2 linked regions of the Homo sapiens genome follow. The protein of the gene in region 1 purifies or fractionates together with the protein of each later gene. This does not show direct contact. Each region holds a gene or a part of one and is shown in the gene's direction. Other genes may lie near its edges.

Region 1 (3,500 bases):
AACATAGAGAGACACCACCTCAAAATTTTTTTTAAAAAATAAGAAATAGGAACAATTTTCCTCCCAGGTATTTTTTTATTGTCACAGTAGTTTCTACCAGTGAAGATGTAGCTAAAAGGCATCACCATACGAGTGTCCTTAGTCACCAAGCTGTATGAGGAGGCAAAAATCATTATTACATACAAATATTCATCCTTCTGTCTTTTCTCTCCCTTCTCTCACCCTGCTCTGGAATCCCCTAACCCCTTTGCTCTTCACAGTGAATTATTTTCTCCCTCAGTTTGCCCATTTCCAATTTTGGCCATAAAAGAACATCTACTATTCCTACTCTCTCTGCTTTGTAAATTGGTGATAAGATGACACTAATATAATGCAACTTGATTGCAAAGTAAAATTGCAAATATTGCACAGGAAAAAAAATAAGATTTATTCTTTGTTAGGATTAAGAAATATAACAGGGTTCTGGTGATTAAAATAAATAAGTATAAATATAAAATAAATTTTTATTAATTTTCATTTTTTAATATAAAATCCTAACAAAACTTTGAGATTTTGCTTCCCATTTTAAAGAGATTTAGATGACCTTTCCCAGGTCTCAATGAACCTGAGACAACCTGGGTCTATTACACTTTAATTAATGTTATTAATGTAAAGAAAAGGAGAAATGGTATGGCTTTGCATTTTCAAGTCCTGTAGATATATTTAACACAGTTATCTGGAAAACATGGTAAATAATGTAGTTGTGCATGGAGAAGATAGTCCTGCTGTGGGATGTTGCTGATTAGAGAAAACAAAAACACTGCTCTGGGCTGTGACTGTTCCTAAGCAGAGAGCTATTTGCTGCCATGTCCTAGAGAGTTATGGAAGCTGCCAGTGTAGACGACAAGTTGATACCAGCCTGGGGCTTAAGGAGCAAAAGCTGGTTGCCATCCAGAATTTGCAGGGCAGAGACAGGACAAAGAAATGTCATTCCAAAGTGGTCATGTAAAAGATTCTTGCTCTCCTGGAGTCCCGACTCTGAATCTGAGGCTATAGCTGGGCTTCAGGGGGCCAGGGTCACTTAAGACTACATTTAAAAATCTATGCATTTTACAGAGAATTTTTAGGGCAGTGAATTCATTCTATATGATATTACCAATGGTGGGTACATGTTATTATACACTTGTCAAGACCCATAGAATACACAACACCAAGATTGAGCCCTAATGTAAACTATAGTCCTTCGCTGATAAAGATGTGTCAGCATAGGTTCATCGATTGTAAAAAAATGTGCCACTCTGGTGCTGGTTGTTGAAAGTAAAGGAGGCTGTGCATGTGTGTGGGGGGTGGGGGAGAAGACGTATATGGAGGCTCTCCATACATTTTGTTCAATTTTATAGTGAACATAAAATTTCTCCTAAACATTTATTAATTTAGAAAAATATCTGTATTTTGTGTATGTCTTTCCTAGAGAGAGGTTTATAATTTTTGTTGAAGCTCAAAAATGCTGCACAATCCTAAAATTGTTTTAAGAAAATGAAGCAAACCCTTCTTTTCTGGAGAATCTAAATATACCTGCTTATAGCATCTGATTATATAATTGGCAAAGTTGAGGACAGGAAATGATACCCTAGGAGACTGACATATCTTAATGTAGTCATTGTGTTAAAAGTTTCAACATTATGAATAAGTCTAAAATATTTTTTGACCTTCCCCTAGCCCTATTCTCCTCTACTTCACTGTTTCAATGTTAATACATATCAAAACACTTTAATCTTGTTTAACCACTTCCTAATAGTTGATACTATAGAGCACAGTTCATTTAGCCATTCCACTGTTGATGGTTTTTTAGGTGGTTTGCCCTCTTTCTGCATTAGAGGCAATGCTACAATGAACATCCTGGTGCATACCAGCAAAGATTTCTCCAGGAAAGATACCTAGGAATTAAAATTGCACTTTATTTTAAGATACACTGCTAAAGAGCCCTCCAAAAAGACTAAAACCTATGCCCCCACTAGCAATATGTGAGAATGCATATTTTCATACACTTTGAATATTATCAAAGTTAAAATTTTTTGATAATCTCATAGGTGAAAATGGTATTTAGTTATAGTAATATCCATTTTCCTAATTATTATTAGTTTCAGATATTTTCTGTGTTTACTGGCCACTTGTGTTTCCACTTTGGTGAATTTCCTTTTTGTATCCTTTGCCAATTTCTCTCTTGGGTTGTTTATCCTTTCTGTTTTTATTTATAGGAATCGTTTATATATTGTTTGTACTAATATTTTTGGTGTTATTTATGTTGTAAATATTTTTATCCATTTTTATATATTTAGCTTTGTTTGTGATGCCTTAACCTCTGTCTTACATTTCAACGTTCTCAAATGTATTCTTTTCCTATTTACTTCTTATTTAATAAAGTCCTTCTCAATCCCCAAATCCATAAAGATCATAAATATATTTTCTCCCAATAATTTTATAATTTTCAGTCTTTAATCCATCTGAGATGTATTTTCCAAGAATGATTCATAAAGATGTCTTTATTTTTACCCTCAAAGCATAGGCAATTTTCTTGCCACAATTTCTTGAATAGGTCATCCTTCTTCCACTGATTTGAGCTGAGTCCACTAGCTACAGCATAGACAACTATTTAGGGTTGCTCAGAACACAGCATGCTATTTTCCCTTCCTATAGCCATCCCTGTTGCGTGTCATTTTCCTAGCCTAATGCCTATTCCTTCAAGACTAAGTTCAAGAATCAACCCTCCACGCTCAGAAAGATTTCCCTCATTCTCCTCACTATACCCTTGTTTAAAACTCATCAATTACTTCCATTTAGAAGAAAATCCAAACTCCTTACCATGGCCAACAGGCCATACAAGAGCTGCCTACTCTCAGACCTCATTTCCTATAGCCCCTCCTTGGCTCACTCATTTCCAGCCTCACTGGGCTTGTGTTGTTCTTCCAACACTCCAAGCCCAGGCCCTTTGCTTTTGCTGATCACTCTGCCTGAACTTATTTTCCCTTTGTATGACTTACTCATTCTTGTCCTTCACATCTCAGTTCGAATGTCCACTTTTCAGAGAGCTCTTCTCTGATTGCCCTCTCCAAAACTGTGTTCAACTACAACACTCTATACTTCTCTTTTACTTTCTTATTATCCTCATCAGAAATCCTATTATTTGTTGACTTGTGTATTATTCACTTATCCCTCTAGAATGTAAGCTCTTTGTCTTACCACTGTATTTCTAAAACCTAGACCGAAACTTGGTATGTAGTAGAGAATTAATGAATATTGGATGAATGAATGTCCCTGCTTGTGCTCCTGATGGCACCTGTGCTTAGCTCTGTTGTAGCAATCCTCACACTACTACCATTGGGTTTTTCTTGCCTGACTTTTCCACTAAGCTTTCTGAAAAATCATTATTTTTTACTATGTCTAGTGTCTGTCAATAAATGTGCACTGACAAAATAAATGAGTGAATGAATGGGAAATTGATGTTGAGATGCCGTTTTTAA
Region 2 (3,500 bases), on another chromosome or scaffold:
AAAAAAAAAAAAAATATCAGGCATGGTGGTGCCCCGCTGTGGTCCCAGCTACTCAAGAGGCTGAGGTGGGAGGATAACCAGAGCCCTGGGAGGTAAAGTCTGCAGTGAGCTGTGATTATACCACTGCACTCCTGCCTGGGTGACAGAGTGAAGCCGTGTCTCAAAAAAAATGCTTTGGAGGTCCAGGAAAGGGGACCTTGGAACTGTGGTGCTGTATCCTGCAAGACTCTCCTGAAAACTTTAGAGAAGTGTTTGTCTCCCATAATTGATTTCTGTGCAACAGCCATGGGTTGAGACCAATTTAAGAAAATCTTAAGTGTGGCCGGGCGCGGTGGCTCACGCCTGTAATCCCAGCATTTTGGGAGGCCGAGGCGGTGGATCACGAGGTCAGGAGATCGAGAGCATCCTGGCTAATACGGTAAAACCCCGTCTCTACTAAAAATACAAAAAATTAGCCAGGCGTGGTGGTGGGCACCTGTAGTCCCAGCTACTCAGGAGGCTGAGGCAGGAGAATGGCGTGAACCCAGGAGGCGGAGCTTGCAGTGAGCCGAGATCAGGCCACTGCACTCCAGCCTGGGTGACAGAGAGAGACTCTATCTCAAAAAAAAAAAAAAAAAAAAGGAAAAAAGATCTTAAGTGCATATTATTTATAGGGGAATTTTGAAATGGTTCCTATGAAACCATTATTATTTTTCATATTAACAGGTAGTTTCTGCACTTTTTAAGCCCCCAACAGCCTTTTGGTAGAAGCCATTACCCCCAGCATGTAGCCAGTCATGTAGGCTGATCTGGGCTCCATTTCAACATGAATAATAAAAAACGCTGCTGCCCATTAAAAAAAAAAAAAAACTGAGCAGCCACATTTGGAGACAGCATGTTCTAGGATTCAACCCCAGAGGGAATTTTGATGCTGATATTAAATACCCCCTAAAAAATCAGGTTTATAATGAACACATAAGAGGCTCCATAATTAAACACTGGTTTAAATTGCACATGTACAACACGCACCAACCTCCCATCTAGACATCAACTTACCCAGCTGACTCTTACATAAGAAAATAGTATTGATACCAAGATTAGAAATTTGTGGGTTTTTTGTTTTTATTAGGTTTCATAATTATTTTAAGCTCTAGTAACTAAAAAGGGGGAGGAGGAAGAAGATGATGCAGATTTTTTTTTTTTTTGAGACAGAGTCTCTCTCTGTCTCCCAGGCTAGAGTGCAGTGGTGCAATCTCGGTTCATTGCAACCTCCGCCTCCCAGGTTCAAGCAATTCTCCTGCCTCAGCCTCCCGAGTAGCTAGGACTACAGGCATGCACCACCACACCCGGTTAATATTTTTGTATCTTTAGTAGAGACAGGGTTTCACCATGTTGGTCAGGCTGGTCTTGAACTCCTGACCTCAAATGATCCTCCTGCCTTGGCCTCCCAACGTGCTGAGATTACAGGTGTGAGCCACCGTCCCTGGCCAGATGATGCAGATTTCTCAACATCTGCAAGCTTGCAACATAAATGGCCAAAAGCAAGGAAATTCCAAGTGCATGCTTACATTCCATTTTTCCTTGATACTTTTGGCCTGGTGATTTATTATAGGGTTTCAGATGAGTGTGTTCTATTAGCTGCCATATGTACACAAAACACCAGGGGACAAACTGAGGACCAAGGGGACAGCTGACCGTTGAATATCTCCAATTTGGGGATTAAGTTTGAAATGGTTGGTTTGTGAATGGTAGGAGGAATCTTTAGCCTATGCACTGAGCCTGTCAGCTTGGATGATGACCATGCCCAAGAGTGGAGCCTTACTCCCTGGAGTCCATAGAAACCCTGAAAGCTGTTAGGCTTTGTGTTTCCTGTAGGCTGCAACTGTTCCCTTCAGGGAGCTGTAAGTGTCTCAGGTTTTGAAAGTTGTCATGATGAGGTTATCTAAACCTCATGGAATCTTCCACCCTCTCCAAGGTTGACCTTATAATACGAATCACTTCTCACCTCCAACATAGAACCATGTTATTAGCCAGGTGTATTTTTTCTCATTAACTCTATTTGGGGTTTTTGGTTTGGATTTTATTGTTTTCATCGCTTTTAGTTTTTGGTGTTTTCAATATGAAGCGGTGAACTCAATGGAGATACAAAGGGTGAGAAATTCCCTCTAGTTGAATCCACTATATTCAAGTAATGGGATTGCAAGTTGCATGGTGGGAAGCTAACATTTAACATACTAAGCAGATCATAAAATGTCTTACTAGAAAAAAAGTCCTTTACTTTTTTCTGCCTAGCTTTCAAAGACTTCCTAAACCTGTTTTACAACCCGAAGCATGGGACTCTGATATAACTGCAGTTCTACATCATAGAAACTTCAATGAGACTGAGTATCCCTCATTGCCCTGCGTCAAACTATAGCCCCATAAGAAACTAACAATTAGATGCAATTTGCCTTTTTCCCTTGCCATACTCATTTGTCTTTATTTTTGTGTCATGTATAAGCTCAAGAGACCAATGTGATGATTATTAATGTAGAAGAAGTAATGATATTTGTACTGGAAAAGGCAGCTACTAGTACAAAAAATAAAAAGAAATAATGATGATAAGCAAAGTCTCTTAGGTATAACATGTCCCTAAAATTCAGGGTTTTTTTTTTAAAGGGATTTAAGGAAAAATACCTGTGAAATAGGTGTGATTTCTTAAAACTTTTGTTCCCACGTATTCCTAAACCAGCATCCTCAATCTTACCCAAAGATGCTAATTGGCAGACCCACCCTTCCTTCCTTCCTGCCTGCCTGCCTTCCTTCCTTCCTTTCTTCCTTCCTTCCTTCCCTCCCTCCTTCCTTCTTTTTCTTTTTTTTTTTTTTTTTTGTGAAAGTTACACTCTTGTTGCCCAAGCTATAGTGCAATGGCATGATCTCGGCTCACCGCATCCTCCACCTCTGGGGTTCAAGCGATTCTCCTGCCTCAGCCTCCTGAGTAGCTGGGATTACAGGCACCCACCACCACACCTGGCTAATTTTTGTTTTTTTACTAGAGATGAGGTTTTGCCATGTTGACCAGGCTGGTCTTGAACTCCTGACCTCAGGTGATCTGCCTGCCTCGGCCTCCCTAAGTGCTGAGATTACAGGCACATCTTTTCTTAACAGAGAAGAACAAAGTTCAAGGGATGAGATGGAAAAAGGAGGGGAAGAATACCAGCTCAGTACAACTGTTTTGTGACTGCTCTGCTAAGACATGTCAGGGCAGAATGACAGCAGTTTTGAAAGGGCTTGTCAGTCAGCTGGGTCATAGATGGAAAGTTAAAATGACCTCCTAAGGTCAAAGTTTATATGGCTGCATAATGCAGTAAATGAGTCGAATTGGTACCCACAACTTCTGTCAGTAGGGTCACATAAGGAGTGTGTCTGTCTCATTGACTATAATTTATTTCATTCAACAGCAAAGCTATATTTGCGGTGGCACTGACTGTCTGAATTTTGACAACTTCATTTTGGGCTTTAATAGAAATGTAGTTTGCTGC

Evidence for each region. Proteins that work in one complex are often made in the same cells at the same time.
Region 2: the proteins of NR1H4 (region 1) and ARID5B purify together in Homo sapiens (pull-down; one study listed by IntAct). This does not show direct contact.

The regions. Positions count from the first base shown.
Region 1 is NC_000012.12:100,476,866-100,480,365, forward strand, and holds part of NR1H4 (bile acid receptor), read left to right. Parts: intron 1-3,500. UniProt on the Homo sapiens protein: Ligand-activated transcription factor. Receptor for bile acids (BAs) such as chenodeoxycholic acid (CDCA), lithocholic acid, deoxycholic acid (DCA) and allocholic acid (ACA).
Region 2 is NC_000010.11:62,086,699-62,090,198, forward strand, and holds part of ARID5B (AT-rich interactive domain-containing protein 5B), read left to right. Parts: intron 1-3,500. UniProt on the Homo sapiens protein: Transcription coactivator that binds to the 5'-AATA[CT]-3' core sequence and plays a key role in adipogenesis and liver development.